Linked DNA regions of Homo sapiens. The protein of the gene in region 3 interacts with the protein of the main gene of each other region in a pairwise test. Each region holds a gene or a part of one and is shown on either strand. Other genes may lie near its edges.

Region 1 (4,413 bases), on a different chromosome or scaffold from region 3:
CTGCCTTTAAAGCTGTTAACTTATTGCAAATATCTTGAGCAAGGAGAGCCAAGGGATTCTCTAAGTGTATTCTTCTTCCTGAAAAACAGGCCCAGGGATATCTGGATAGAGAAACACCTGATCAACAAGTTCGTTATAAATAAGGATGATGATAGGTGCAATGAAAAGCTACATTGAAGGACCTAGACAAATATTTTTAAAATTGAATCACTTATTTTTTTTTAAAGCCCTGCATAGAAATTCCCAAGGTATCAAAAACAAATGAGAGAAGCCTTATTCATTACATTAGCCAAGAATGGGTGTGGACGTGAACATTCTGGAAGGGTGACGCTGATGACTTGAGAATGTCTAAGGCACACTTTGTGTTCTTTGCAACATCCCATGAGCAAGTACGCAGGGGACTGTGTCCTCGGGATTCAGGGGAGCTCTTCCTTTCCCTGGCATGGCCCTGGGTGCCTGGTGACCGATATGCAGCACCCCTGGGCAGAACTCCGTCTGGATTCAGTGCACGCCCTGCTTGGGCCAGCACAGCTCTCGTGCAAAAGCACCTTTGCAGCTTCTGATCGCATCGTCGAGCTCTAGGCACTTGTTCAGGCCTGGCACTGCAGATCTCCAGCCGATGAAGCCCTGGGTGGTCTGTGGGACTGGGGGGGATGGAAAGACCTGGAATGGAAATACAGGGGATTTAGTGACCTTCGGCCACAGAGACACGAGGCACCCAGCATCGGCATGTGAGGCAGGGGTGGAAAAGACAGAAAGAAAAGCCAGCCTCCCTGATGTGTACTGAAAACAAGCACATTCCAATCAGCTGGACTCAGAGGCTCTCATCTTTCCGGGAAGTGAGGAACATCAAACATGTTTCTTTATCGTGTAATGCCTAACATATTTAATTCATGACTTCCAGCAAAATAATTTTTATTTGGTAAGAAAGCAAAAAGAAAAAAAGATGCAGAAATATCAAGTGCTACAGTTTTCACTGCCTTTTATAAAATATATGGCACTGTTGTCAGATGGCATTGCGGCAGGTGCACGTCACCCTGTTTCGATGAGAAGCCTCTACGAAATGCATCTGTATATACACACACACTCCAAACCGTGGAGATCACAGGAATGAAAAGCAACTGAATTTAATTTTAAAAACCAAAAGGAAAATGGGCTTCTATCTGGAATGAAAAAACACAACTTCATTTGTCAACTCCTTGGACAGATTTGACATTTTTGGAAAATGAGGGTAAATGTTTAGGCAGGTTTTCCCCTTCTTTTGAAATAATCTGTTCTGCATAAGGGGATTTGAACAAAGGCAACAGTGCGGGACATTTGTTCTAGCAGAAGAACTGAGATAAAGAGGTTTAATATGCTTGGGGTTATGAGTTCACTTTTACTAATGGAACCTGCCGGTGAGGCGGTGGCAGGAGGGGATGGTCCCGAGTGGGCTGGCTGCTGCTGGTGGACGAAACCCCTTAGCATATGTTCTTGATGAACTCCTAAAATTAGTCTCCTGCAAGGCTACATGTAGGGCGGGTCATCAACAAATGACAGAGGGGCCAAAGCTTCCTTGAACCAGCTACAAGTAAAATTGTTCAGAAGGGAAGCAGCTCTCAAAGCTGTTTGTCCAGCCAGGCCTTTGGGAGCACACAGACTAACTTCCAAGTCTTTATCTAACTTGTAAAAGAAATGCAGTTGAAATCCACTGTGAGACATCATGTTTCACCCAGCAGAGGGGCAAAAAGATGAAAACACCACCACTAACAAGGGCATTATAGGAGCAAGGGCGATATGGCAATTATCTTTTTTTTTTTTTCCTTTTTTTAGACGGAGTCTTGCTCTGTCATCCAGGCTAGGGTGCAATGGCGCAATCTCAGTTCACTGAAACGTCTGCCTCCTGGGTTCAAGTGATTCTCTTGCCTCAGCTCCTGAGTGGCTGGGATTACAGGTAAGTGCCATCATGCCCAGCTAATTTTTGTATTTTTAGTAGAGACAGGGTTTCACCATGTTGGTCAGGCTGGTCTCGAACTCCTGACCTCAGTTGATCCACCTGCCTTGGCTTCCCAAAGTGTTGGGATTATAGGCATGAGCCATCATGCCCAGCCTGGCAATTATCTTTTGAAAGTGCAGATGCAAAAAAAAAAAAAAAAAAAAAGAAGAAAGTGCAGATGCAAACACTCTTTGACCTAACAATCTACTCTGAGGCATTCATTCTAAAATATCCTGATAGCTACACAGGTACACACCCATGATGGTGCAAGGGATGCCTTGCGGAGCTGTTTGTAATAGCAAACAATTGGACATAAGCTGCATATCCACCCACGGAGGCTCATTCACTATGGCCCATCCATGCAATGTGTGGTGTGCCATGCAATGGTTTAGAAGGATGAGACAAACTTCTAAGAGAAAAGAGGTGCACAAAACTATTCAAAGTATGGTACAAGCTGTGTAATAAGAAAATGAGGCCAGAGGCCCATGGATGTCCTTGTCTATGCAAGAGTGCGTGACAAATGGGTGACAGTGGCTCCAGGGGTCCAGAGGGAGGGAGGCATCTCATCAGATGCCCTTTTAGGTATCAAGGTTACCTATTAAAAATAAATATATTTTTAAAGGCTTTGGTCACCAATGAGAGGATAGGAAGGTGGAAGAAAGGTGGAAGAAGGAAACCAGCTACCATTTTTTTTTTTTTGAGACGGAGTCTTACTCTGTCGCCCAGGCTGGAGTGCAGTGGCACGATCTCGGCTCACTGCAAGCTGCACCTCCCGGGTTCACGTCGTTCTCCTGCCTCAGCCTCCTGAGTAGCTGGGACTACAGGCACCCACCGCCATGCCTGGCTAATTTTTTGTAGTTTTAGTAGAGATGGGGTTTCACCGTGTTAGCCAGGATGGTCTCAATCTCCTGACCTCGTGATCCGCCTGTCTCGGCCTCCCAAAGTGCTGGGATCACAGGCTTGAGCCACTGGCCCGGCCACCATTACCATTTCTTGGGCAAGAAAGGAAGTTTGGAGGGAAGCAGAGGCTGGGGACCTTTCTCGCCTGAATCAAGGTTCTTGTCCTTACCCCTGCCACCCCACAGGCTCTGTCTGGTGAGTGTGGCTTTAAGAGCTGGCCCTTGCTCCTAGACAGGAGTCTCTCACAGGAGATAACCATGTTTTGGTATGTTCTGGTGCCTGGATGGTTCCTCCCTGTTTCCCATCCTCCAGGAGGGGCACCTCTCTGGTATCTAGGTGGGGGCGCTTTCTTTGGAAAGAGAATAACTGTGGTTGTGCAGAGCAGGCCCAGGGGCCCTGGTGGCAGAGGGAAAGTCCAGTCTCATGGGCCGGCAAGGGATCTGTGGGGACAGCATGTGGCTGAGGGACATTATAGACACTAAGCAGATCCCATGCCACCGTATTCTTGGGATGGAGGCAGGTGGAGGCAGGGAGTTGGCAGAATTAAAGCCCAGCTCTGGAAAAATGTCCCACCTACATCCCAGTCTCTCTTCCTCTATTCTCCGGCCAGCCCAGTGTTCTAGGCCACAGGAGAGCGAGCTCCCTAAATGTGTGCATTTCATCTGAACAATCACCTTTGTAGGCACTAATATCAAGAAAATTACGGACTCAGAGCAAATTTCTGTGTCTACAAGGTGTTCCTTGCACGATTATTCTCCCAAATCTCATGCCGGATACAACCTCAATGGCCAGGAATAGGGGGATGGTTAAATAAATTATGACAGATCCACACAGTGGAGAAAAACACAGCCATTAATATAATAGCTATTTAGAGTGCTTTTTTAAACTGCATGGAAAGATGTCCAGGGTATGTTGTTAGGTGGAAAAATGAGATTACAAAGCAGCCTGTGTAGTTTGATTTGTAAACATATACCTAAAAAGTATGTGTGTATGTGCACAAGTGTGTATATACGTATACATGAACATACATTTGAGGAATATTTGAGGGTAACATTTAAAAGCAGGGCTCTGGAATCAGACACACTTGCTGTGTGGCCAGAGAAAGGAATTCAGCTTTTTTAAGCTTCAGCTTTCCCATCTGCAAAATGGGTTTGAGGATGATAATATCCGGGGCTGCAGTGGAAGTAAGATGAGACACCCAATGTAAAGCAGTCACCACGGTGAGCGGCTAAGAGATAATAATAGCTTGAGCTGGTGGGGTGGTTACTCTTACAGGTCAAGGGATGTGTAGGAAAACCTCTGGAAGGAGCACCCCCAAAATGTTAATCATGGGTAAGAGCCTATATGTGGGTTTTAATTATATTATATTTTGGTGTATTTCTAAATATTTTTTAGCAGTGACTCTATATTGCTTTATATTTGGGGTAAAAACTGTCAACATAACTCAGTGGAGCTCATTCATTCATTCATTCATTGGGGCTCACAGATGCATACCCCCCAAATGCTCACTATGTGCCAGCTACCCCATCAGACCACGA
Region 2 (4,413 bases), on a different chromosome or scaffold from region 3:
TCATGGGTTAAAAAATAGAAAATTAAAACATTCCTTCATAAGGCTGCTATAAGGATTAAATAAAAAAATGCTTGTAGAGACTTAACACAGTCCCGGCACACACACAATACCATTTTGTTTATCTCTCTCCACTGAATCCTAACTAATGCCATATTATTTTGATAGAGAAAGATGAAATTCCTATTTTATAAACAGGAGACTAGAGATTCCTAGAGTGTCAATATTTAGTTGTATAACTACAGATAGTAAAGGTTAAATACACTAACATATAGTTCAATTTACTCTCAGATTCTCACCTTACATAGCATGATAATAAAAAGAAATGCCTAGGCCGGGCATGGTGGCTCACATGGGTAATCCCAGCACTTTGGGAGGCCGAGGTGGGTGGATCACTTGAGGTTAGGAGTTCCGAGACCAGCCTGGCCAACATGGTGAAGCCCCATCTCTACCAAAAATATTAAAAAATTAGCTGGATGTGGTGGCAGGTGCCTGTAATCCCAGCTACTCAGGAGGCTGAGGCAGGAGAATCACTTGAACCCGGGAGGCGGAGGCTGCAGTGAGGGAGTAAGTGGAGGCTGCATCACTGCACTCCAGCTTGGGCAACAGAGCAAAACTCAGTTAAAAAAAAAAAAAAATATATATATATATATATATATATATATATATATATATATATATATATATATATGCGCCTATACCGATGTTCCTCAACTTATGGTGGGTTTGTTTTCCAATAAACCCACTATCAGTTGAAAATATCATAGGTTGAAAATACATATAATACATCTAACCTAATGAACATCACGGCTTAGCCTAGCCTACTTAACCATGCTCAGGACACTTAACGTTAACCTATAAAGTTGGGCAAAATCATCTAACAGAAAGCCTACTTTATAATACACTGTTGAATATCTTGTGTAATTTATTGAATACTGTACTGCAACTGAAAAACTGAACGGTTGTATGAGTATTTTATTTATTTATTATTTATTTATTTATTTATTTTTGAGATGGAGTCTCGCTCTGTTGCCCAGGCTGGAGTGCAGTGGCATGATCTCGGCTCACTGCAACCTCTGCCTCCCAGGTTCAAGCGATTCTCCTGCCTCAGCCTCCTGAGTAGCTGGGATTACAGGTACGTGCCACTGCATCTGGCTAATTTCTGTATTTTTAGTAGAGACGGGGCTTTGCCATGTTGGCCAAACTGGTTTCGAACTCCTGACCTCAGGTGATCTGTCTGCCTCGGCCTCCCAAAGTGCTGGGATTATAGGCATGAGTCACTGTGCCCGGCCATCAGTATTTTAAAGTATGGTTTCTCATAAATGTTCATCACTTTCAAACCACTGTAAAGTTGAAAAATCGTAAGTCAAACCATTGTAAATTGGGGACCATTTGTATATGCCTACCTCAATTCCGAAGTATTGATGTCCTTTTCCCAATACAGCATCCACATATTCTGACACCAAATCCACAGCTTCTTCTAAAAGGTCATAGTTTAAGTATAAACGAAGCAATTCAGCAGCATCAACCTTCTGTGAAAAGTCAGTGATTAAGAATATGTACCTATTTCCCTCCTACTTGAGTACTGACCAAAGAATGTTGAGTGGCTGATTCCCTAACATTTGTATTTCTCAATATAATTAAACCAGTGGCTTGGTTTACTCATCTGTATCTTAGGATAAGAGCTGATAACAAATCTGGGGAGTTAGGAAAAAAAAAAAGTTAAATCCCTAAGAGCCGTTACCTCTAGGCAGTTTGGGAGGCCCTTATCTGTTAAATAGCCTTCTTCCCCTGTTTTATGACCTAAGACATATTTTAACTTCTCTCCACTTCAGTTTCCACAGTTGTAAAGTCAACAAACTTTTCCTGAACACTAAAGTGACAATATATTCACATAATAAGAAATATATGAATGACAAATGCAAAAGAAGTTCAAAGAATCACCAGCTTTAAATCTGAAGTCTCTATTTGGAAGAGCTCTATTAATTAAGCATGCTTTCTATATTCCCATTTGATCACAATCTTACCTTTACCATCTTAGCTGGCTTCCCTACTTTCCTATTTATTTATTTTTTTTGAGACAGAGTCTTGCTCTGTCGCCCAGGCTTGGGGGCAGTGGTGCAACCTCAGATCACTGTAACCTCTGCCTCCAGAGTAGCTGAGATTACAGGCACGCACCATCACATCCAGATAATTTTTGTATTTTTAGTGGAGATGGGGTTTCACCATGTTGGCCAGGCTGGTCTCGAATTCCTGACCTCAGGTGATCTGCCTGCCTTGGCCTCCCAAAGCGCTGGGTTTACAGGCGTGAGTCACCGTGCCCGGCCTCCTTTCTACCTTAAAAAAAAAACAAAAACAAAAACAAAAAAAACAAAACAAAACAAAACAAAAAAAACCAAAAAAAACTTTCCTGATTTTAAGCTTTAGATTTTCTCTTTCCTTATCCTACTAACGGTGGTTCAGATGCAGAAGTTCTCAAACTTTAGCATGCATCAAAATCAAATTAGGAGCTTCTTAAAATGTAGATTTCTGGCTCCTAGCCTGAGATAATCTGATTCTGTAAGTCTAGGATGAGGAATCTGTATTTTGAAGAAGACTGCCATCTGAATAATTCTGATGCAGACAGTCTAAGAACCCGTTTTTGATTTTTAATAGGTGAAACAGTGGGAGTGGAGAAGGAACCAATCGGAAACTGGTTGTGCTCAATTAGTTGTAAACAACACGGCACTCAGACCAGCCATAGTGTTATATTATTTGAAAAGTACTCCACCGACTCCTGTGACTTTTTTGAGGTATGAAGAGTAAATCCTGTGTCATGCATATGCTCATTGTTCTAAATATAAACTCATTGTTCAGTGAATATAATAGGAGTCATTAACCTAATTACTAACCTATGAAACTTCAAATCTAAATACACAGTAGTACTGTGGAAATGAATTTGAATTGTTCTTATGGTTTTAGCTATGATGAAAAGCTTCCCAAAGTACGTAAGTCAATATGTTCCCATAAGTTATCACCCCATCTTTTTCTTTTTCTTTATATATTTTTAAATTTAAATAGAGATGGGGTCTCCCTGTGTTGCCCAAGCTGGTCTCAAACTCCTGGGCTCAAGCCATCCTCCCCTGTTGGCCTACCAATGTGCGGGCATGACAGGTATGAGCCACTGCAATCAGTCCATATTTTTAATCATCTCATGAAGTTATCCAGAATGATAAAGAGTGGGTTCTTACTCTGTACAAGTTATAATCCGTTTACCTTGTAACTGTTTATAAGCCAATTAGGCAGAGGCACTCCATGAGACAAGAGCTTGTTGATTACACAGTGGTGATACAAGTTATTCTGGACTTTGTACCTCTCCAGGTAAGTGGATAATAGTCGCCATGCTTCATCTGTAGCACTTGAAAAAAACAAAAATGACTAATGAGTTTCAGATTCTTAATAGCTATTTAGAGTACCATTCAAAGCATGTATTTACAAGGAAAACTTTTTTTTCAGACAGGGTCTTGCTCTGTCACCCAGGCTAGAGTGGAGTGGTGTGATCTCAGCTCACTGCAGCCTCAGCCCCAGATTCTCCCATTTCAGCTTCCTAAATAGCTGGGAATACAGGCATGCACCACTATGCCCAGCTAATTTTGTTTATGTTTTGTAGAGACAAGGACTTGCTATGTTGTCCACGCTGGTATTAAACTCCAGAGCTAAAGTGATCCTCTGACCTTGTCCTCCCTAAGTGTTGGGATTACAGGCAGGAGTCACCATGCCCAGCCTTACAAGGAAAACTTTAGAAATTAACAACTGAATCAATAATATAGCTAAATGGGAACAAATATTATTTGGGCTAATGTGACTTATGGGGATAGCACTAGAAACTAGATGTCTTGGGTTCGTATATTCCTCTCCCACTAACGTATTTAGTATTTAGTAAACAAACATATTTAGTAAATGAACGTTATTTGTTTGGCTATTAATGCATAATTCATTTAACTCCTTTGTTTCTGCATTTCTAAAACAAGAAACTGGTTCAGAACACTGGTTCTCAAACCTGATCAAGCATTAGAATCATGCAGAAGTTCTAACTTAGAAGACTAGGGTGATTTCTCATAATCTGTATTTTAATAAGTTATTCTGATGTGCTAATTTAGGGGTTGAAAACTAATGTCAGAGAACTTCCAAATTCTAAAGTGCTATCACTCTAAAGTGCTAAGCTGTATAATACCAAGTGCAAATGCAGTTCAGAAAGGGAAGTTTACTGAGGGTTAGGAATGTTAGAGAAGGTTTCTGAAGAAGCTGAAGTATATTTACGTGGACACAAAGTGGGTGCACTGGGGAAGTATACGAACCAGAGGAGATCTGAAGAAGGTATAGTGGATGATGGGGGCTGATGGGTGACAGACTGCTGAACAGCAGCTGGAGACAAGA
Region 3 (4,413 bases):
TGTAATCCCAGCACTTTGGGAGGCTGAGGTGGCAGATTGCCTGAGCTCAGGAGTTCAAGACCAGTCTGGGCAAAACGGTGAAGCCCCATCTCCACTAACATACAAAAAATTAGCTGGGCGTGGTGGTGGGTGCCTGTAGTTCCAGATACTCGGGAGGCTAAGGCAGGAGAATCGCTTGAATGTGGGAGGTGGAGGTTGCAGTGAGCTGAGATCGTGCCACTGTACTCCAGCCTGGTCGACAGAGCAAGACTCCATCTCCAAAAAAAAACAAGACTTGGTACCAATCCTATGGACACTATTCCAAAAGACAGAGAAAGAGGGAATCCTCCCTAAATCATTCTATGAAGCCAGTATCACCCTAATACCAAAACCAGGAAAGAACATAACAAAGAAACAAAACTACAGACCAGTATCCCTGATGAACATAGATGCAAAAATCCTCCACAAAATAATAGCTAACTGAATCCAACAGCATATCAAAAAGATAATCCACCATGATCAAGTGGGTTTCATACCAGGGATGAAGGGATAGTTTAACATATGCAAGTCAATAATTGTGATATACCACATAAACAGAATTAAAAATAAAAATCATATGATCATTTCATTAGATACATAAAAAGCATTTGACAAAATCTAGCATCAATTTATGATTGAAATGCTCAGGAAAATCGGCATAGAAGGGACATACCTTAAGGTAATAAAAACCATCTATGACAAACCTGCAGCCAATATTATACTGAACAGGAAAAGTTGAAAGCATTCCCCCTGAGAACTGGAACAAGACAAAGATGCCCACTTTCACCACTTCTATTCAACATAGTACTTTAAGTCCTAGGCAAAGCAATCACACAAGAGAAAGAAATAAAGGGCATCCAGGACCAGGTGCAGTGGCTCATGCCTGTACTCCCAACACTTTGGGACACCGAGGCAGGTGGATTGCCTGAGCTCAGGAGTTTGAGACCAGCCTGGGCAACATGGCAAAACCGTGTCTCTACAGAAAAATACAAAAATTAGCCGGGCATGATGGTGCGCATCTGTAGTCCCAGCTACGTGGGGGGCTGAGGCGGGAGGATCGCTTGTGCCCTGGAGGTCAAAGCTGGGGGACAAAGCAAGACCTCATCTCTTATAACAAACAAACAAATGAAATAAAGAGCATCCAAATTGTTAAAGAGAAAGTCAAACTGTCGCTGTTTGCCGACAATATGATTGTATACCTAGAAAACCCTAAAGACTCATCCAAAAAGCTCCAAGAACTGGTAAATGAATTCAGTAAAGTTTCAGGGTACAAAATTAATGTACACAAACCAGTAGTACTGCTATACACGAAGAGCAACCAAGCTGAGAATCAAATCAAGAACCCAACCCCTTTTATAATAGCTGCAAAAAAAAAAAAAAAGATAAAATACTTAGGAATATATCTCACTACAGAAGTGAAAGGTCTCTACCAAAACACTGCTGAAAGAAATCATAGATGACACAAACAAATGGAAACACATCTCATGCTCATGAATGGGTAGAATCAATATTGTGAAAATGTCTATACAGCCAAGAGAATCTATAAATTCAATGCAATTCCCATAAAAATACCACCATCATTCTTCACAGAACTAGAAAAAACAATCCTAAAATTCATATGGAACCAAAAATGAGCCCACATACCCAAAGGAAGGCTAAGCAAATCTGGAGGCATCACATTACCTAATTTCAAACTATTTTACAAGGCTATAGTCACCAAAACAGCATGATACTGGCATAAAAATAGGTACATAGACCAATGGAAAGAATAGAGAACCCAGAAATAAAGCCAAATAGTTAAAGCCAACTGATCTTTGACAAAGCAAACAAAAACATAATGTGGGGAAAGGACACCCTATTCAGCAAACAGTGCTGGGATAATTGGCAAGCCACATGTAGAAGAATGAAACTGAATCTTCATCTCTCACCTTATACAAAAACCAACTCAAGATGGATCAAAGACTTAAATCTAAGACATGAAACCATAAAAATTCTAGAAGATAACATTGGAGAAACCCTTCTAGACATTGGCTCAGGCAAAGAGTTCATGATCAAGAACCAAAAGCAAATGCAACAAAAACAAAGATAAATAGATGGAACTTAAACTAAAAAGCTTCTGCACAGCAAAAGAAATAATCAGCAGAGTAAATAGACAACCCACGGAGTGGGAGAGAATGTTTGCAAACTACAGATCCAACCACAGACTAATATCCAGAATCTACAAGGAATTCAAACAAATCACCAAGGAAAAAAACAAATAATTCCATCAAAAAGTGGGCTAAAGACCAATAGACAATTCTCAAAAGAAGATATACAAATGGCCAACAAACATATGAAAAAATGCTCAACATCACTAATGATCAGCAAATCAAAACCACAATGTGATACCACTTTACTCCTGCAAGAATGGCCATAATTTAAAAAATAAAAACATAGGCCGGGTGCGGTGGCTCATGCCTGTAATCCCAGCACTTTGGGAGGCCAAGGCGGGCAGATCACCTGAGGTCAGGAGTTTGAGACCAGCCTGGCCAACATGGTGAAACCCCATCTCTACTAAAAATACAAAAATTAGCTTGGTGTGGTGGCAAATCCCTGTAATCCCAGCTACTCGGGAGGCTGAGGTGGGAGAATCGCTTGAACCCGGGAGGCGGAGGTTGCAGTGAGCCGAGATCATGCCACTGCACTCCAGCCTGGGCAACACAGTGAGACTCTGTTTCAAAATTAAAAAAAAAAAAAAGATGTTGGCATGGATGTGGTGAAAAGGGAACACTTTTACATTGCTGGTGGGAATGTGGACTAGTGCAACCACTATGGAAAACAGTATATGGAGATTTCTTAAAGAACCAAAAGTATATCTACCATTTGTTCCAGCAATCCCACTACTGGTTACTGCCCAGAGGAAAAGAAGTCATTATATGAAAAAGACACTTGCATGTGCATGTTTATAGCAGCACAATTCACAACTGCAAAAATACGGAACCAGCCCAAATGCCCATCAATCAACAAGTGGATAAAGAAAATGTGGTATGTATATATACCACAGAATACTACTCAGCCATAAAAAGGAACAATATATTGGCCAGGAACAGTGACTCACGCCTGTAATCCCAGCACTTTGGTAGGCTGAGGCAAGCAGATCACAGATCACTTGAGGTCAGGAATTTGAGACCAGCCTGGCCAACATGGTGAAACCCCATCTCTAATAAAAATACAAAAATTAGCTGGACATGGTGGCATGTACCTATAGTCCCAGCTACTTGGGAGGCTGAGGCAGGAGAATCACTTGAACCCAGGAGGCAGAAGTTGCAGTGAGCTGAGATTGAGCCCCGTTGCACTCCAGCGTGGGCAACAGAGCAAGTGAGACTCCATCTCAAAAAAAAAAAAAAAAAAAAAAGATAGAATGGCATTTGCAGCAATCTGGATGGAGTTGGTTGGAGACCATTATTCTAAGTGATGTAACTCAGGAATGGAAAACCAAAAATGATATGTTCTCACTTATAAGTGGGAGCTAAGCTATGAGGATGCAAAGTCGTAAGAATGACACAATGGACTTTGGGGATTCAGGGGGAAGTGTGGGAGGTGGGTGAGAGATAAAAGACTACACATTGGGTACGGTGTACACTGCTCGGGTGGTGGATGCACCAAAATCTCAGAAATCATCAATGAAGAACTTATTCATATAATCAAACACCACCTGTTCTCCAAAAACTATTAGGGGGAAAAAAACTATGGTCCTGAGCTGACCACTTTACTGCAAAATAAATAAAAATATGATTTTTTAAAAAGTTGTAAAACAGACCATGTTTTGTCTTTGCTTAAAACCCTTTAATGGTTTTCTAGCACTCTTAGGATCAATCTCAAATTCTTTTTTTTTTTTTTTGAGATAGGGTCTGGTCTGGCTCTCTCACCCAGGCTGGAGTGCAGTGGCACGATCTTGGCTCACTGCAACCTCTACCTCCTGGGCTCAAGCCATCCTCCCACCTCAGCCTCCTAAGTAGCTGGGACTAAGGGTGCACGCCACCATGCCCGACTAATTTTTGTATTTTTTGTAGAGACAGGGTTTCGCCATGTTGCCCAGGCTAGTGTTGAACTCCTGAGCTCATGCAATCTGCCCGCCTCAGCCTCCCAAAGTGCTGGGATCACAGGCATGTGCCACTGCACCAGGCCAATCTCAAATTCTTAACATAGTCTATCAACCTCAGTGTGATTTAGCCCTCTTCTTTCTGTGTAATCACTATGTAACATCCTCTACCCCCCTTGGTCTCTGGGTCTCACTGGGTTTTTTTCAGGTCTTCAAACTAGTGATGCTTTTTAATGTCTTGGGATTTTGCACAAGTTGTTCCAGCACCAAAGTTAAATTTCTCTGTAATACACTCTTAAATCATCCAGGACTGC
Region 4 (4,413 bases), on a different chromosome or scaffold from region 3:
GGGGAATTGAGGCGGAGAGTGTATATATGTGTGCATGTGCATATGCTTCTCCCCATCCCACCACAAAGAGTGAAAACAAAACAAGCTACCAAAACCAAAAATATCTCAGGCCTCATCAAAGCAATTAAGATATAACACTTAGGGATTAAGGACTTAAAATAGTCACTTCATCAACTGTCTAAGCCATGTCTGTGCCCTTGTTAACTAATCTGCTAATCGGTTAAACACAACTTCTGTGTGACACAGCATTCTATGTCTTTAAATGCTTCTACATGCAGCTCTCCAGCACCACTGAATTCAGACTTGGGGCCATGTAATTAGGTTTCTTGAAAGGCAAGATTTTGCTGAAAATGCAGTGTGTCTCGCAGAACTTATAAGCAATATCACCCTCTACATTATGAGTCACAAAGCCCTAAATCACGAGGCTTGATACTTCCTTTAAGCCAGAAGCTACTCTGGCTACCAGCCCTGAGCCAAACTAAGAAGTCAGCACAGCATCTTTCCCCTTTCTATGTACATTTCCTCTCCAGCCACATTTAGACATCCAATTCCTTGTGTTTCTCCCCCTCTTCTTTTGTCCAAAGGTTAGTACCTTCAGAAAATTACCTGAAACTCATTTAAACCAAGATAATGAATAAAGGATAAGGCTGAATTACCCCTTCCAGAGGATTTCTTCTCACTGTAACAAGGATCAAAATCTTAAGCTTAAAAAAAATCTCTTTTCTATTATGTAGGGATGCCAAGTTATTTTCTAGGACAGTAGGGTTTTCCCAGTGCTTATGGAGTTATGTTACGGATGTGCTTCATTCACCAGGGTGAAGCACGTATCTGACTTTCATCATCCCCAGCACTATATATGCTCCCAGGCTATATGGCTACGTCGGCTTGAGCCACTTCACCTCAAAGCCAGTGACACAGGGGCTATGCAGTGGGATTGTCCATGTTATCTCACAAGACTACTGAGGTACACAAAGCTGTGTCTTCTGCCCAGAATGTTCACCTGAATACAAAGACTGCATCTGATAAATAACCTTACCTATAACATGGATTCCTGCAGTGCCTGTCACTAAAAGTGCAATCTTCTTCTTGAACCACCATCATTATCACCACCACCACCACCACCACCACCACCACCACCACCACCACTACCACCACCACCACCACCACCACTAACAATTACAATAAATGGTGACTGTGTCGAAGTTCCAGGACGGAAGGCTTCATGCATGACATTTTCTCCCTATGAGGTTAGAGCATTTCTTTCTACTTATATAACTACCCACTAGCTCCAAAGGCTGTGAATCCTGGCCCTACTGTGGTCAGAACTGAAGGACAGGAATGACTCAAGGATACTTTTACAAAAGTTCTGAAATTGTGCCACAAGTGGTGGCCAACTCTAAGAAGGGGCGACCAACCAACACCAGGCCGGTCTGGAATCAGAGGAGAGAAACCCCATCCTGGAGAGGAGGGTCCCTCCCATGAAGAAACCAGATGCCCTTGGGATGTCCAGCTGATAAGAGAAAAGTGGGTAGGCCTAGGGGAGGCTGAGCAGGAGCTTTTTTTCCTGGGGTTCCATGGTTTCCTGCTAGCTGAGGAAGACAAGGCAGATTCTTGCTGATCTGGGGGTCAGATTCTTCCTCTTCCTGCCCCCCAGCCACTAACTGCCTTCAGAAGTGGTTTCAGCTCCTTGAGTTTAGTGGAAGATTTTGCTTTGGAGGAGGCCAAGGACAGGAAGTAAGATATAAGCAATAACAAGAAGCCTCACATGTGTTGTGGTGTCTGGACTTCTCAAAGTGCTTGCACAGCCATTATCTCATTTTACAGTGACCCCATGAAACAGGTTAGAAAGTGTTATCTCTATTTTGGAGAAGGGGAAACTGAGATCTGAGGGTTTCCTGAGGAGAAACCCTAGAAGATGAGAGAAGAGTGGCAAAGAGTTGGGGGTGGCAAAGAGCTGCCACAGGAACTGTCACCCTGGGACACATGGCGGCTCTAGATGCTGCAGAAAGCTGAGGTCAGGCAGGGAGATCTCTGCCAGGAAGGGCGCATGCGGGGGGTGCTGCTCAGCAAGCCCCAGTGGCGCTTACTCAAGCCAGGCCTACCCTGGGCCCAGTCTTCTGCATTTCCTTCCCTCCCTGGGGCCGGCCATTGCTCCGGGCATCTGTTCTCCCCATCTTCCTCCTCCTACCTCCCATCATCAGGCTCCACAGTCCCAGAGGCAGGGCTGGTGGGGGAGTTAGGAGCTGTAGGGTATCTAAATACTCCCTCCTATGACAACCCCAGTCTCTTCCCCACCTGCTTCAATCTTCTAAATGAGCTAAGAACCCGAGATGGCATGACATGCCTAAGCAGTCTTAGGCACTCTTTCAACAACTCTAATAAAGGTGATAATAAGAGCTAACACTGAACATTTATTACTAAATTTGAACCTAAGCCATCTAGTCCTGAAGCCCATGCTCTTAATCACTACTGTGTCTCCTAAGAGACACTGGGCCTGGCACTGGGGGGTTAGCATCTGGCTCAGCTACCTTCATCTTCTTCAAAATGGCTGGACACTGGCCGGAATGGAGTTGCATGCAGGAAGGAACAAGGCGGAGGGAAAGGCTCAGTCAGTAATGGAAGAGGGTCAGTCTCCAGGGCAGAAGCTGATGCTCCTTACTGGCCTCTGAAGCAGGAGTACAGATGGAAGTCTCTAGACTCTTTCTCCTGGGGCAGAAGACTGCCTTGAGAATTTCCTCAGGAGCCTGATACACGTATGGAGAAATATGTTCACACCACAATGATGAGAAGAGTTGCACACCAGGAAAGCTCTGCAGATGGACCCTGAGGCTCTGTCAATGGGAGACCACCAAATACAGTACCGGGAACCTCTGAGGGGCACTGATGCAATGAAACAGTGGCACAGGTCCACGAACATGCACCCGGCAATACCACGTCTATGTTCAGTTCCACACCTTTAATACAGGCACAACTCCCCACACACACAGGTAAGACCCATCTCTGCCCACAGCATACACACCCATGGCCCCCTACCTGTCATCACAGTAGGTGAACTTCATGTCCATGCTGTGGCGGCTCAGGAAGGTCTTGCTATCCAGGGGGATGTCCATGTGGGATGGGTGCTGGATTGGTTCACACATGATGATGAGGCAGGACAGCAGGGGCTCCTTGTAGCCACACAGACTATTGTGAGGAGGGCAGTTGTTGTAGACTTTCACCTGGCCCGTGCAGTGCAAGACCTGAGACAGGCGTGGAAGGGTCAGACATGGAGCCGAGAGTGCTGGGGGTGGGGGTAGGGCCTTAGGCATCCCCTGCACCGCCGTTACCCTACACCTGGGACTCCAACCCAGGCCTGATGTTGCCCTACCTTCCAGGTGGCTGACTTGAGGTTGACAGTACGGCCTCTGTTGGTGACCGTGCACTTCATCCTCATGAAGAAGTCCCGCTCTGTGGACATGTCTTTGCTTTTTTTCCCAAAACCAGAGCCTGGATGTGGAAGGATGGGAAGAACCAGCTGAAGTCAGTTTTATATGGATATTCATGAGAGGGGCCCAGCTGCAGTTTTTCTTGGCAGCCTATTGTTTATATTTTCCAAATATCTGCTCTCTTAGCACCTGTGGTCTGCCATCAACACTGAGCTCCATCATGGCCTGTGAACTAATGGTTCCCACTCTCAAGCTTATCTCCTCAACTGGAGCATAAACTCCCACAAGGGAGGAGCTGCTCCATCATTTGATTTCCCATTGCATCTGGAACATGGTCAGTGGTGCCTTCAGAGCAGCGACACAACGACTGCCTATCAGCCACTAACTCAGCCACCCTTTCCTGGGGCAGGCCCAGGTCTTCTCGCAGAAATTCCAAGGGACAGTCTGAGTGAGGCCACAGTTACTCCAAGGGTGTAAGCCTTCCTCACAGGTTAGAAATGTCTCTCCGACACTCCCGTCTTTCCTTTATAACCTGTCTCTCAGGAGGAATTTAACCCCTCCTGTACCCCATTTGCAAACTGCAATAGCTGTGTTCAGGATACCATGCCATTAGCTTTGTCCCTGAAGTGACATATGTATCAAGGCTCTAGAGAGAACTCTGGTACGAATCTCCTTACAGTGGACTTGGTGAGCAAGTCCACTTTATGGATTAACTCAACCTGGATCATATCCTCTCTCTCAGCAAAAATTAAATCACCAAGACCAGCAATATAGCTTACTTCCTTATAGTTGCCAAACAGCCTCCCGATTCAGAACCATTTTCCACTTTTTGTAAAACAAAGTAATGAAGAGTGCCAGCTGAATCCCACTTGTCTGTGTCTAAATCCTGCCTACACCACCATCTCTGGTACCTACTTTCAAAGATATAATCCTGCCCCCTACCCAGCATCATAGAACAATCTAGAGCCTTGTTTCGAATAGTCACACT
Region 5 (4,413 bases), on a different chromosome or scaffold from region 3:
GGAGACTGAGGCGGGAGGCCAGGAGTTCAAGACCAGCTCAGCAACACAGCAAGACCCTGTCTCTACAAAAAAATAAAAATTAGCCAGGCATAGTGGCATACACTTGTAGTCCCAGCTACTCAGGAGGCTGAGATAGGAGAATTGCTTGAGCCCAGAAGGTCAAGGCTGCAGGTGAGCCATGATCTCGCCATTGTACTCCAGCCTGGGTAACAGAATGAAAGCCTGTCTCTTTAAAAAAAAAAAAAAAAAAGGAGAGGAAAGATTCCAACAACCCACAAAACAAACAAACATTTAAAGGATCAGTCTAGGAGGTCCAGTATCTAAATAGGAGTCATAGAAAAAGAAAAATGGCAACACAGAGGGAAGGAAATAATTGAGGAACTAATTCAAGAACATTTATTGGAACTTGAGGACATTAGTTTTCATATTGAAAGGACCCATCGAATATTCAGCACAATGGATGAAAGTGACCCACCCAAAGCACAGTCATCCTGAGATTTCAGAACACTGGAAACAGAGATCCTATGAGTTTTCAGAGAGAGGAAAAAAAAGTCACATACAAAAAGTCAGAATTGCCTTGGACTCTCAACAACACCAGCAGCTAGCAGGCAATGGAGCAATGCCTTCAACATTCTGCAGGAAAACACATTCCAAGCTTTCCTGCAGATTCTCTATTCAGCCGAATTATAAATCCAAGGATGAGGGTAGAATAAAGATATCTACAGGCTGCAAGGTCTCAAAAACACATACCTCCCATGCACCCTTTCTCAGGAAGCTACTGGAAGATGTGTTCCACCAAAATAAGGGAGTAATCAAAAAAGATAAAAACGCGATATAGGAGCACCAGTAGAGGACAGACGTGAAAGGGGTACCCAGGATGGTGATGAAGAAAGATCCCAGGATGACAGCAGTGCACACCAGACAAACCAGCCCAGATTTGAGCAGGTCAGAAGGCTCCAGGGAGATTTCTTTGGGTAGTTTAAATTTTGATAGACTGTCTAATGCTTTTGAACCTCTTAAAAGGAGATTTAAATAGTTGGTGAAGCATTTGGGGGTTGGATTAGTTATAAGAATTATACATAGAAAATTAAACAAAAGGACAAGACATTAACTCCAGGTAAAACAAAGTTGTGAAGGAAGAAAAAAAAATCAGAGTTTACTATTTGGCTTATCTCTGAATAATAAATATTCAGTCAAAATGATTTAAATACTGGCCGGGTGCAGTGGCTCATTCCTGTAATCTCAGCACTTTGGGAGGCCAAAGCGGGCAGATCACATGAGGTCAGGAGTTCGAGATCAGCCTGGCCAATGTGGTGAAACCCTGTCTCTACTAAAATACAAAATTTAGCCGGGCATGGTGGCGGGCACCTGTAACCCCAGCTACTTGCGAGGCTGAGGCAGGAGAATCGCTTGAACCTGGAAGGCTGAGGTTGTAGTAACCTGAGATCGTGCCACTGCACTTCAGCCTGGGTGACAGAGCAAGACTCCCTCTCAAAAAAAAAAAAAAAAAAGATTGAAATACGGATATAACCAACATTATGGTTTAGCTCCTGGAATAATGAGGAGAATGGGAAGTACGTGTTTGTGGTGGAGTCCTAGTAGGAGAGAGAACTAGAAATTCTCATCTTCTTTGGTAGATAGATGATAAATAATGCCCCAAAATGAAAAAAAAAATGGAAACTAGCAATACAAGCATGTTATTTAAGGACATAGAATTAAGTACCAAAATAATCAACTAAGGTAGATAGATGTTCTCATCTCTGGGGAAGGGTAGTACAGGGAGGTGGGTTGCAAGGAGTGCAATTTTTTCTTAACAAAATTTGTAAAACTGTTGGACTGATTTAACTGTGTGTCTATATAACTTTGGTTAAAAAAATAAATATTAAAAACCAAATTGATTAAAGACTTAAGAGCATGAAGTTTGGAAACAGATCTGGGTTTGTTTGAGTCTTTCTTGCCACTTATTAATGGTGTGACCTTGAGCAGTTTATTTAACTACACCTATTTTCTCATCTGAAACATGAGGACATTACTTACACATTTGTTGTAAGGATTAAATTATGTAATTTTTTTTTTTTTTTTTTGAGACGGAGTCTCACTCTGTCGCCCAGGCTGGAGTGCAGAGGCACAATCTCGTCTCACTGCAACCTCCACCTCCTGGGTTCAAGCAATTCTCCTGCCTCAGCCCCCTGAGTAGCTGGGACTACAGGCACGTGCCACCACGCCTGGCTAATTTTTATATTTTTTTAGTAGAGACGGGGTTTCGCCATGTTGGCCAGGCTGGTCTCAAACTTCTGACCTCAGGTGATCCACCCACCTTGGCCTCCCAAAGTCCTGGGTTACAGGTGTGAGCCACCACGCCCAGCCAATGTAATTTATTTATTTATTTATTTATTTTTTTGACACGGAGTTTCACTCTTGTTGCCCAGGCTGGAGTGCAATGTTGCGATCTCGGCTCATCGCAACCTCTGCCTCCCGGGTTCAAGCAATTCTCCTGCCTCAGCCTCCCGAGTAGCTGGGATTACAGGCATGCGCCACCATGCCCGGCTAATTTTGTATTTTTAATAGAGACAGGGTTTATCCATGTTGGTCAGGCTGGTCTTGAACTCCCGACCTCAGGTGATCCTCCCACCTTGGCCTCCCAAAGTTCTGGGATTACAGGCATGAGCCACCACGCCCAGCCTCAATGTAATATTTTTAAGTGCACGTAGTATAGTATGTAGCACATTCAAGCTATTATTTTGGGAGATTACTTCCCTAGTTTAGAGCAAGCAATTAAAATCACAGGAATAGAAAAAGGTAAACTAGCCAGGATCTCCCATTTGTCTAGAGTAGGTGGGATGATTTCTGATTTACAGGGTGATCCCAGAATGGACTATCAGGGTGTTTTGAGCCAGGTTGATTGAGCACTGGGCTCCAACTTATTGTTAATGAGAAATGGCCCAACTTGGACCATGACTTTCCCATTTGCAGGTCTTAGAATAATTTTTTTTTTAATTGAGACAGGGGTTCGCTGTGTTGCCCAGGCTGGCCTCGAGCTCCTGGGTTCAAGTGATCCTCTGCCTCAACTTCCTGAGTAGCTGGGATTACAGGTGCTTGCCACCATCCCCAGCACAGTCTTGGAAGAATTTTAAGAAGCTTACTTCATTGAAAAAAGAGGAAAGTGAAAATGTGCTAAGTATATGAAAGGGAAAGCTTGGATTAAAGATGAGAAACATTTTTAGACTATAACATGTTAAAGAGAGATACTATAGGCTTTATGTTTTAGTCAACTTCTTTTACCTATAGGGACCAATAGATAAAGTCTTAACCTGGAGACAGGGGTTGGATGAAATGGTTTCTAAGAGGTTTATCCAGGTTTTGTGGAAACAATAGGAACAAGACAGATAAAATAAGGGGTCTTATTAAAAAATAATGCTCTAAATATTTGAGATACTAGAACACTATTTTGTTTTCTGTCTCTTTTGATTGGGAGTTTTTATGTGGAAGGAAGCTACTAACTATCCCACCCTATGCAGAGACCCCAGAATCCAACAATAGCGTGTATACTTCCTTCATGAAGTCTCATCGCTGCTATGACCTGATTCCCACAAGCTCCAAATTGGTTGTATTTGATACGTCCCTGCAGGTGGGTGAAATCCTCTTTTCCCTTCCCCCTTTGGAGCCTGTGGTTTAATACCTCTCATCCTATCTCATCCTAAGGGTAATATCCTTATCCTTCTGTGAAGTTAGTCTCATGTTTTACCCAACATGCCCAAACACTGTTCTTTTTTTACAGTCCTGCCCCTGTGGATTTGCCTTTATGATTATTACTGTCTTGGCTACAGGTGAAGAAAGCTTTTTTTGCTTTGGTGACTAACGGTGTACGAGCTGCCCCTTTATGGGATAGTAAGAAGCAAAGTTTTGTGGGTAAGCAAAAGTTTCTGGAACACAATATTATTGGCATCTTGTGCTGGGCAGGGAGACAAGCTTCAGGCAGTGCTGAGGGCTCTGTCTTGTCCTCTAGGCATGCTGACCATCACTGATTTCATCAATATCCTGCACCGCTACTATAAATCAGCCTTGGTAAGGAACCTTAACCCAATGACCAAAATCACTTTCCCTGCCCTAAATCCCTCATTCTCATTTCTTTTTCTCCAAGCAAGCCACGAGGGCTTAAGGAAGCAGAGAGATCAGGTCTCAAATTCTGTTGCTTCTGCTTTCAGGTACAGATCTATGAGCTAGAAGAACACAAGATAGAAACTTGGAGAGGTATGTAGAGAATTGGGGTTATAAAAGGATAAAGGGATGGCGGGTTTCTGGGAAACACTTTTCCATGGTGGTATTTTGTGACCCATCCCTTTTCCCTTCAGAGGTGTATCTCCAGGACTCCTTTAAACCGCTTGTCTGCATTTCTCCTAATGCCAGGTGAGT
Region 6 (4,413 bases), on a different chromosome or scaffold from region 3:
TACTGCACTGGGCTGGGGATGGTAAGGGAACACGGCAGACGGCAAGGTAGATGCTGACTCGTCTTCCCTGAGCTTCGCACCTAGCAGGGAAGCAAGCATGGGACGCCAAGCCCCAGACCTATGGGAGCAGAGAGTGGAAGGATTTGAGCTGCTCGAGGAGGTCAGAAAAGGCCTCCTTGAGGATGAGCAGGAGTAGCAAGGAGTGAGGGGCATCCCTAAGTGCTCGAAAGATGCCCAAATGAATAATCAGGTGAACACACTGATTTCTGCAACTGATGGGAACTGAGGGTGAGACTTTGTTCAAAGCTCTATTAAAGGATCTAAGTTGTGTGCAATAATCCCCTCCTAAAACTTAGGACAACAGTATTTTCTATTTTTTTTTCTCTATGCGTGTTTAAAGGAGGGCTCCGGGAAGCAGACAGGGAGAAGGAGGTGGCCAAAGCATTTGCCAGCAGAGGGAGGGGAAGGCTGCTGTTGTGGCCTGGCAGTGCCCTGGCCAGGGGCTCACCTGGCAGCTCCTTGGCCTTGCCCTTGTCCACCAGCTCCAGGCCGGCCTCGGTGGCTGCGCTTGTGGCTTCCATCTGCTGCAATATGGCCTCCACGATGGGCACCATCATGGCCGTGGTTGCCGTGTTACTGATCCACATGGACAGGAGGGCTGTGACGCCCATGAAGCCCAGCATCAGCCTGCAGAGGAGGGGCAGGGAGGAAAGCCAGAGAATCCCCACCCCACCCCCGTACTCCCTGGGAAGCAACTGGGGACTGGGTCCACCCCTGCAGGGATGCACAGGTGTTGAGGCCAATTCAAGATCAGATATTGGAATAGGGATGACGGTTTTAGAGCCTCCCCTCCCTCCCTCCTTCCCTTCTTTGCTTCCTCCATTCCTCTCTCCCTCCTGCCTCTCCCACACCCATGACTGATGTCTACTCTGCTTGCTTCTGGGGTTACCAAGAGGCCTCAGATCCAGTCGTGGTTCTAAGGAGCACCCCTGCCCCACCATCTAGCAGGGGAAGCCCAGGCATCCAGATGGTGCCAACTCAATATGAGCTTGCCCTAGGGTGTGCTGGAATACCCCTATGTGCAGGCAGCCCCAGCTTCCCACTTCTGGCTAGGAAATTCCCACCCACCCCCAAACTCTGTTGCACCTCTCAGAAGTTCAGAAGGGCTAAGCAGAGTAGGGGTAGGGTGAGCTGGGGAGGGAGCTTGGGAAAGTGTGACTATTCTCCCGGCTGCCACTCCAACCCTGCCATCTCCCCTCCGCCCCGCACATACACTTTGACCCCTCCATGCTGCAGTGGAGCTATCACACAAACAGTATTCAGAAGAAACACTCCCTTTGCTTGTAACCCCTGCTCCCTTCTCTGCTGTCTATCAGGAAGACTCCTCATGGTCCTTCAGAGCCTGCTCAAACAACATCCCTCCTCTGGGACCACGCTCTCAGTGTGTGCACCAGGTGGGGCTGGCCTGACCCTTCTCAATCCTTCCCCCTACTCTAATCATCGCTGTGCTGGGTTCAAAGCACCTGTTTCCATGTCTGCTCTCTCCTTGGGCTGTGAGCAGGGCAGGGCCTGACTCTGCTCTGTGGCTCTACATGCCCCAGCTGTCCAAGGCTAGGGACAGAAGGAGCTCAGCTACTCTCAGTCTGTGGGCCTCGCTGCAGCCAGGCTCCTCCTCAGGGCTCCTAATTCACCTGGGGGTAGGAGCAGGGGCAGGGGTAGGAGCCTGAAGAAGGGACCTAGGAGCTGTTCTGCACCAGGGCCCAAGCTGCTGTCCACACAGGCAGACATTATGGACCCAAAAAAAAACAAAGCCCGGGACCCAGGCTAGGAGGAGGGGGAGAGTTTGCATGAATGGAGTTGTCTGAGAAGAACCAAGGCTTCTACATGATATCTCAAGGCACCAAGGGTGCCTCACATACAGGTGACTCCCAGGACAGGCAGTGCCTTGGACAACCGGAGACCATACTCAGAGGAGCAAGGTGGCAGGAAGGATACAGAAGCATGTGTGAACTTGGGTTTGGAAGTGGAAGCTCTCCAGCATGCTGCAGAATGAAACCCACTGGAGTGGCCTCCCACCCAAGCTGGCCACTCAAGGGAGCCAAGCAGAAGAATTCTGAGGGCCCTGAGGTCCACTTTCCTGGGGTCTCTCATTTCTAGAAAATATGATGGCTTTTGATTTGATGCTAAAGCAATTACTGGAAGGAATCAATGCCAGGATGTGTAACAGATCAGAGAGCCACAAAGTCCCCTGCTCAGGGGAATCTGAGGCACCAAGGGAGCCCCGGGCATGGGTTGCCTGCAGGGCAGGCTAGCGTCTGTGTGTGCTCAGGGTCTAGCACAGCCCCTGACACAGGGGCGCCTCAGGAGGAATTTACCGTAAACTGACCAGCAGCTGACTCCTGATGGCTGGGCCAAGGACGTGCCATCATTGAGGGGACACATTGTCTCAAAAGGAAGATATGCCCTGAGTTTCTGATTAGAGAGGACACAGGCCTTATCAGAGAAGCTGGGTCCAATCCCCGTGTGTCCATGAGCAAATCACTTTATCCCTCTCTGCCTCCAATCCCTCATCCACAGAATGTGGGCAGTAAGAATACTCAGCTCTCAGAGTTGTGGTAAGAATTAAATGAGGCAATTCATAAGCTCCTGGTATCATGCCTGGGGCCTTGTAGACACTCAATATACCCATTATGATCATGATTGATTATGGTTATGATTATGATTATATTGACTCCATGGCTTAGCTGGAAATGGCTAGCTAGATTGGCAGGAGAGATCCTGGAAATGGAGAGAGAAGCTGGGGTACTGAGTGATATCGGGGAAGATAAGAAGCTTCTTTGCAGTGGGAATAGATGCTCCAGCTTGGAGAGAGGACCTTTCTGCTTCCCCATGAGCTGGGTAGTTGAGCCACTTCTGGCCTGCTTCCCTTATCCTATCAGACACAGCTTGATCCAGCCTCTATCCAATTTGTTCCCGGTGGAACCCTGCAGCTAGCTGCCTCCCCCAGAAAGCCTTCCAAGCCTGCAAGGACTCTTGCTGACCCACCTCCTCTGGATTCGAGGACCCTTACTTACTGCTGCTCACCATGTGCCACCACCACGCATGCATCTGGTCTCTCCCACTAAAGCTATAACGCACCCCACCCAGCCAAGTCCAGGTAAGCCCATGGCCAGCCCTCACCAGTGGATGGCCTGGTCTGTGCCATCCTCCACCCCCTTCCAGCCCTGGGGCTCATGCAGAGCCACGTGGCAAGAGAGAGAAGGCGTAATTACCGTGCAGGCTTGGCCCCCACCCAGAGGAGCGTGCGCAGGGCGATCCTCTTGTGCAGGTTCCAGCGCTCCACAGCCACGGCCACGATGAGGCCGCCCAGGAACAGCATGTTGGTGTCCTTCATGTACTGGACACACACCTGGAGCGTGGCACGAAGGCCTCATCAGGACTGTCCCTTGCCACACACTAGAGCCACCCAGTCCCCAGATGCTGACTTCAGGGACAGCTTGGAGTGGGGATGCAGGCTCGAGTGGTGTCTCCCTGCCAGGGAGAATCCACAAATGAGGGTTTTCCGGTCACCCCCAGGCCTGTGCGACTCACAGTGGGGACTAGAGAAAGAGAGAAGGGGAGAACCAGAAAGTCACCAGGATCCCTTGGGTCTGCTCACCTGCCTGGAGTCCAGAATCTGGAAGAGTGGGAAAAGCAAGACAGGCATGAGAGAGGTGACAGCCAGAGGGATGACTTCTGTGCACCAGTAAATGGCCATGAGGATGATGACGTAGGCACACCTGACAAACTGAAGAGACAGTCCTGAGGCCTCAGCGTGTTGCCGCCTCCCTCTCCCCACCCCCAGAACACTCCGGACGGCGGCTGGCATGGATTGTCAAGACACAGTGCTGATCTCAGAGGGATTCCCCTCAAAGTCATCTTGTTCCCCAGCCCTGGTCAGCACAGCTTTCCCGGGTCAGGCCAGGGATCTATTCGCAAAGGACTCCTGCCCCATTCCCACCCCTCCTCCCTGCCTCCCTCCTTCCCAGCTGTGTGGTTCTAGGCACGTTCTTTCATCTTCTCAAACCTTGGATTAGCTGCCTCTCAAAAGAAAAGATCAAGAATAGGACAAGGAAGAAAAGGAGAAAGAAGGAGAAGGAGGAGAAGGAGGAGGAGGGGATAGAAGAAAGAGAGGAAGGGGGATGGAGAAGGAAGAAAAGAAAGGAGGAAGAGGAGAAGGAGAAGAAGAATAAAATACCTGGTTTTTTTGGTTTTATTATTATTTTATTTTTGAGATGGAGTGTCGCTCTTGCCGCCTAGGAGGCCATTGTTCTAAGAGAAGTGACTCAGCAATGGAAAGCCAAATAGTGCATGTTCTCCCTTATAAGTGGGAGCTAAGCTATGGGTATCCAGAGGTATATAGCGTGGTCGAAT
Region 7 (4,413 bases), on a different chromosome or scaffold from region 3:
AGGCCCAGCCTCTGGTCCCCTGGCTCCTAGCCCTCCCTCCGTGCCCTCACTCACACTGGGCAGGGCCGGAGTGACGGGGGCGAAGGCCATGTGTATTCGCTCATGGCCCAAGCAGAGTTTGACCGCGGTAGAAGCCAGCAGTTCGCAGAGAGAAGGACAAGGCAGGGGCCCTCGGCCAGCACGGTCCTCTGCTGGGGTCTCAGCGGAATCGGGGGTCTCTGTCAGGGAGGAAGATGGTGGGGGGCTTCGCGTTTGGTCCCTCCTCTTCCCCTCGAGGCCCTCTTGCCCATGCTGCTCTTCCCTCTCTTCCTGGCTGAGCCCACTCTCCCCAGCCAGCATCCCCCACCTCAGCTCTGCTCTGGGTCTCCCCGCTCTACTGCTTTTCCTGCAGGCAGCTCCAGAGTCTCTAAAAAGAGGGGTTCAGAGGGGGGTCTGGCCAAAGAAGGTGTTTGGAGGCATGTCCTGAGGGGAGTAGTGGAGATTATTGGGGGTGGGGGGGAGTTGCTAAAGTCCCCGGAGACTTCCGCGACTGTCCCCTCCTGCCTCAAACTCTGGCCCAGCCTCCCTCTTGCACAGGCCGAGGGGCAAGAGGAGCCGCTCACCCTCTTTGATGCTCTTGGTCCTGTGGGTGTCGCCATTGCAGGAAGGTTGTGGAGTTGGGGGCGTTTTCTGTGTTGATTCCTTCTGTTAAACCCATCCACCACCCCCCCAATCCAACCAGAGATTTTAAAATGGCAGACACAATTCAACAGAACCCACAAGAATGAACAATGGACTCTTGTCAGTCCTAAAATCGTGTTTATAGGAGCAAAATGCCATAGGATATAACATTAGGTGGAAAAAAGTTGCTCATGGACTTCTACCTATGATAGGGTCTATAGTCTACTAAAATAGACAAATGGCTGGAAATAAATATGTCAAAACTAATGGTAGCATTAAGGTCATCGTCATTTTCTTCCTTATACTTGTCTGTATTTTCCAAATTTTCCACAATGGGTATATAACACAGTGTCTGGAACCCAAAATGCATTCAATGAACTATTTATTTTGAATGGATGACTTTTATAATAAGAACATGAACTTCAAAAAACTTTGCAGAATGCACATTGAGCGCCTGCTAGGTGTTAGGTGCCGGGATACTGAGAAGGCGGGCCAACGCTCCACCTGAAGGAACCATGGCCTGGGGACCTGGCCATACCAACAAGCACCTCTAGCATGATGTGGCAAGCGCTGAACAAGAATATGCACAGAGTAGGGTGGATATGCTCCAGGAAGGCAGGGGGTGAGGACCTCCAGGGCATGGAGGTGGGAGGGGCCAGCGCTGGAGATCATGCATGGCTCCTGATCCCCAAGGTGGGAATTAGCCTGATCCCACAGGCTTCTCTCTCTTCATCCCCACCAAGAAAAGGGGGGGCCAAACCCCTGCAAAGGTCAGCCATTTGCAGGCACGATACCCAACCGGTGACATGCCCTGGGTCTTACCTGCTGGCCTGCATCCCCGGGGGCCCATACCCGGGCATCAGCTTGGCAGGGGCAGTGCCCCCGGATATCAAACTTGACCCAGACCTGGTGCATTGCAGTGCTCAGCTCTGCCAAAGCTGGGGGTGGGGGTGGGCAGGAGAGGGAGGTTGGTGGTGAGTGTAGACCAACAGGCAGTCCCGGGCAGCTTGGCCTTGCCAAGCAGAAGGGCATGGCACTGGGGGGAGGGACAATCAGACGGGAAGCTGGTCTCCCTCAGGACCCAACCTCTGCACGCCCCACCCCTCCAAGATGGCTCACCCTGGCTGGAGACAAACTGGGTCAGCATCAGGGAACAGGCAGCGTGCCCGGCCTCCTGCGTGCACTCCTCCGCGGACTGCTCCTGAAAGCCTGTGGGGCAGGAAGGGAAAAGCTGCAGGTCCAGAAATCAAGGTAATCACAGGTTAAGGTCAGAGAAGGTCAGGACATGATACCTAAACCAGGGGACTCAATAGTCCACAAAACTCGTGCTTTCTGGGAAACCTGGGTCACATAGAGACACAGCATTCTTTGCTTGTAGAATGCTACAGACTTTAACGTGCTGAGAGGCTTTGCAGGTCCTTAGGCTAACCATGTGGAAGACAATGTTCTAAAACGTGTCTGACCCTGGAGCTCTTTCTGGTCATCCCTACTGGAACACAGGGAAATTTCAAGCTCTCCCGTGGCCAACTTGAGCCAAGGGAAAGAAAGCTGAGAACTATGAAAAGAACAGGATGAAATCAGAAGACCTGAGTCTAAGTCCTGGCTGCAACACGTTACTAACTGTGTGACCTTGGACGAGTCGCTTATCCTCTGAGTTTTTCTTATCTGGAAAACAAAAGCAGTAATACCCACTTCACAGTGTTACAGCAGGTTTTAAAAGGTGCCAGCTGAACAGAGTGGGAGACACCGAGTGGGCACACTCGCCTTTGTTTAAGGGTGGTCAAGGACGCAGGCATGGTCCTCTGATCTGCAGAGAGGGGAAGTCTGCTCTAAGGGCATTGAGCCATGGTGGCTGAGGCTGGGGCTGTGCAGTGGGTAGGGGGCTTTTTGGGGAGAGGCAGCCAACGAATGACCACAGGCTTGCAGCAGTCCCCCTGAGGGCTCCATCCCGCCCTCCCACCCCCAGCCCCTCTCCTACCTGCTTTCTCCCTGGCCCGCCCAGTGCCTGCCACACGACCACAGGCCACACACAGCCGGTGGCTGCAGCGGGGACATCGCCAGTGGGTGTTGAAGAGTCCATGGTGGCAACGGCTGCAGCAGCGTGGAATGCCTGGGCTGTCCTCTGTCACGGCTGGCCCTTGGCCTGCTGACCACGGAGAGAACAGGGTCAGAGGGTGAAGGCAACAGGCCCCAATGGAAGGCTTCACGTGGGAAGGATCCAAGGAGGGGCAGGAGAAGCAAGGAGCAGCTTCCATGGAGAGGGCCCCCCCAGGGAAGGGAGACAGGCCCCTCGACAGCTACCCCCTGCTTACTCCACAGCCCTGTCGAGAGCCTCCTTGTAGAAACTATCCTCTCCAGCAAAGCCTTCCAGGGACATTGGAGGCCTCAGCTCCACCATTCCTGCCCCACACCCAGCTCTGCCCCCAGGGACTTCCCCACTGGCCCTGAATTATTAATCCACACCACTTCTAGCACATTCTTTCCTCCACCTCCTTCCCTCCAAGCCCTAGGTGCTACCAGAAGTGGTAACCATGCTCAGGTGCCATTTCCTCCAGGAGACTTTGTTGTCGTTGTTTTGAGATAGGGTCTCACTCTGTCATCTAGGCTGGAGTACAGTGGTGTGATTACAGCTCACTGCAGCCTCCATCTCCTGGACTCAAGTGATCCTCCCACCTCGGCCTCCCAAAGTGCTGGGATTACAGGCATGAGCCACCGCGCCCAGCCAGGAGTGGGGTTTTCTAAGAACCAAGTATGAGACTAAGCCATTGTTGGTAGGTGGAAAAGGTGTCGCTGAGTACAATTCAACGAACGCCTTGCCTTTGGGTGCAGGGGCCTCAGAGGTGGTTAGGACTTGCCCCTGCCTCGCAGTGCACACATTCCAGGTAGGGAGATGGACCCATAAATACAGCGATGACTGTGGCACCACGAGGCGGGTGCTGGAGATGGAAAATGCCAGGGAAGGGTGAGGATGGGAATGCGGGAGAGCTTCCCAAGTGGGCCCCAGAGGATGAGTAAGTTTTCATTCACCAGGTAGAAAGGGAGGAGCAGGGCATTCCAGACACAGGGACAGCCAGTGCCAAGGCCCGAGGGGATGACAAGCTCCAGGGAGCCGGGAAGGGAAGGATGGATGGCGTGTGTGCTGGGAACCCAGGCTGGGAGTGGCAGGAGCTGACAGGGAGCCTGCTGAAGATGCACCAAGGGGCCTGGCCTGTCTGGGGCAAGAGGGAGCCCCGGGGGTCTCCACCCAAAGACTGACCAGCAGCCTTTGGTCATGAGGAACTCTCTGTGCTGCGGAAGGGCGACCGAAGGGAGCACCTGCAGCCAGAGGGGACCTTAGCCCAGGTCCTGTCAGCCCTCCAGGCCCGGGAGCTTCGCCTGACCCCCAAGCCCTCAGGAGCTCCCCCACCTCCCAGTGCCTTGCAGATACTTGGCACTCATTCTTGTTTTCCCAACAAGCCCAAAAACTCCCAGAGAACTGGGCTGTACCCAGTTTGACACCTTCCTGATGTCCCCACCCAGGCCAGGGGCTCTTCTGAGGTTGCCTTAGGTCTAGGAGCTGGCAGTGTGGGTGGGGTCAGGGGAGGGACACCTGGGGCTCCCCACACAGAGACCCCACGCAGACCCAGGAGGTCCTGTTCACCTTCCCGCTGGGCCCAAGCCAGGGCCTCCCGCTCCCTCCGCAGCAGGCGGCACAGTCGGTCCCCCAAACCACTGAGCAGGTGCTTGGCGAGGCCTGTGCTGAGCCGGCTGTCA

Evidence for each region.
Region 1: the proteins of KLHL20 (region 3) and CIMIP1 interact in a two-hybrid assay, tested with the Homo sapiens proteins (one large-scale study listed by BioGRID).
Region 2: the proteins of KLHL20 (region 3) and NUP160 interact in a two-hybrid assay, tested with the Homo sapiens proteins (one large-scale study listed by BioGRID).
Region 4: the proteins of KLHL20 (region 3) and EPAS1 interact in a two-hybrid assay, tested with the Homo sapiens proteins (one study listed by BioGRID).
Region 5: the proteins of KLHL20 (region 3) and PRKAG1 interact in a two-hybrid assay, tested with the Homo sapiens proteins (one large-scale study listed by BioGRID).
Region 6: the proteins of KLHL20 (region 3) and SLC13A5 interact in a two-hybrid assay, tested with the Homo sapiens proteins (one large-scale study listed by BioGRID).
Region 7: the proteins of KLHL20 (region 3) and HR interact in a two-hybrid assay, tested with the Homo sapiens proteins (one large-scale study listed by BioGRID).

What each region holds. Positions count from the first base shown.
Region 1 is NC_000020.11:58,156,911-58,161,323, reverse strand, and holds the end of CIMIP1 (ciliary microtubule inner protein 1), read right to left. Parts: intron 1,934-4,413; exon of another isoform or gene 1,893-1,933; intron 664-1,892; coding exon 502-663; 3' UTR 174-501; downstream 1-173.
Region 2 is NC_000011.10:47,781,670-47,786,082, forward strand, and holds part of NUP160 (nuclear pore complex protein Nup160), read right to left. Parts: intron 3,395-4,413; coding exon 3,253-3,394; intron 1,530-3,252; coding exon 1,404-1,529; intron 1-1,403. UniProt on the Homo sapiens protein: Functions as a component of the nuclear pore complex (NPC). Involved in poly(A)+ RNA transport.
Region 3 is NC_000001.11:173,734,936-173,739,348, reverse strand, and holds part of KLHL20 (kelch-like protein 20), read right to left. Parts: intron 1-4,413. UniProt on the Homo sapiens protein: Substrate-specific adapter of a BCR (BTB-CUL3-RBX1) E3 ubiquitin-protein ligase complex involved in interferon response and anterograde Golgi to endosome transport.
Region 4 is NC_000002.12:46,359,711-46,364,123, reverse strand, and holds part of EPAS1 (endothelial PAS domain-containing protein 1), read right to left. Parts: intron 3,487-4,413; coding exon 3,368-3,486; intron 3,240-3,367; coding exon 3,034-3,239; intron 1-3,033.
Region 5 is NC_000012.12:49,004,958-49,009,370, reverse strand, and holds part of PRKAG1 (5'-AMP-activated protein kinase subunit gamma-1), read left to right. Parts: exon of another isoform or gene 1-62; intron 63-771; exon of another isoform or gene 772-945; intron 946-3,518; coding exon 3,519-3,628; intron 3,629-3,778; exon of another isoform or gene 3,779-3,827; coding exon 3,828-3,909; intron 3,910-3,979; coding exon of another isoform or gene 3,980-4,006; coding exon 4,007-4,065; intron 4,066-4,205; coding exon 4,206-4,251; intron 4,252-4,352; coding exon 4,353-4,407; intron 4,408-4,413. UniProt on the Homo sapiens protein: AMP/ATP-binding subunit of AMP-activated protein kinase (AMPK), an energy sensor protein kinase that plays a key role in regulating cellular energy metabolism.
Region 6 is NC_000017.11:6,703,370-6,707,782, forward strand, and holds part of SLC13A5 (Na(+)/citrate cotransporter), read right to left. Parts: intron 3,788-4,413; coding exon 3,659-3,787; intron 3,410-3,658; coding exon 3,273-3,409; intron 688-3,272; coding exon 509-687; intron 1-508. UniProt on the Homo sapiens protein: High-affinity sodium/citrate cotransporter that mediates the entry of citrate into cells, which is a critical participant of biochemical pathways.
Region 7 is NC_000008.11:22,121,011-22,125,423, forward strand, and holds part of HR (lysine-specific demethylase hairless), read right to left. Parts: coding exon 4,301-4,413; intron 2,804-4,300; coding exon 2,639-2,803; intron 1,870-2,638; coding exon 1,780-1,869; intron 1,599-1,779; coding exon 1,483-1,598; intron 685-1,482; coding exon 603-684; intron 219-602; coding exon 55-218; intron 1-54. UniProt on the Homo sapiens protein: Histone demethylase that specifically demethylates both mono- and dimethylated 'Lys-9' of histone H3. May act as a transcription regulator controlling hair biology (via targeting of collagens), neural activity, and cell cycle.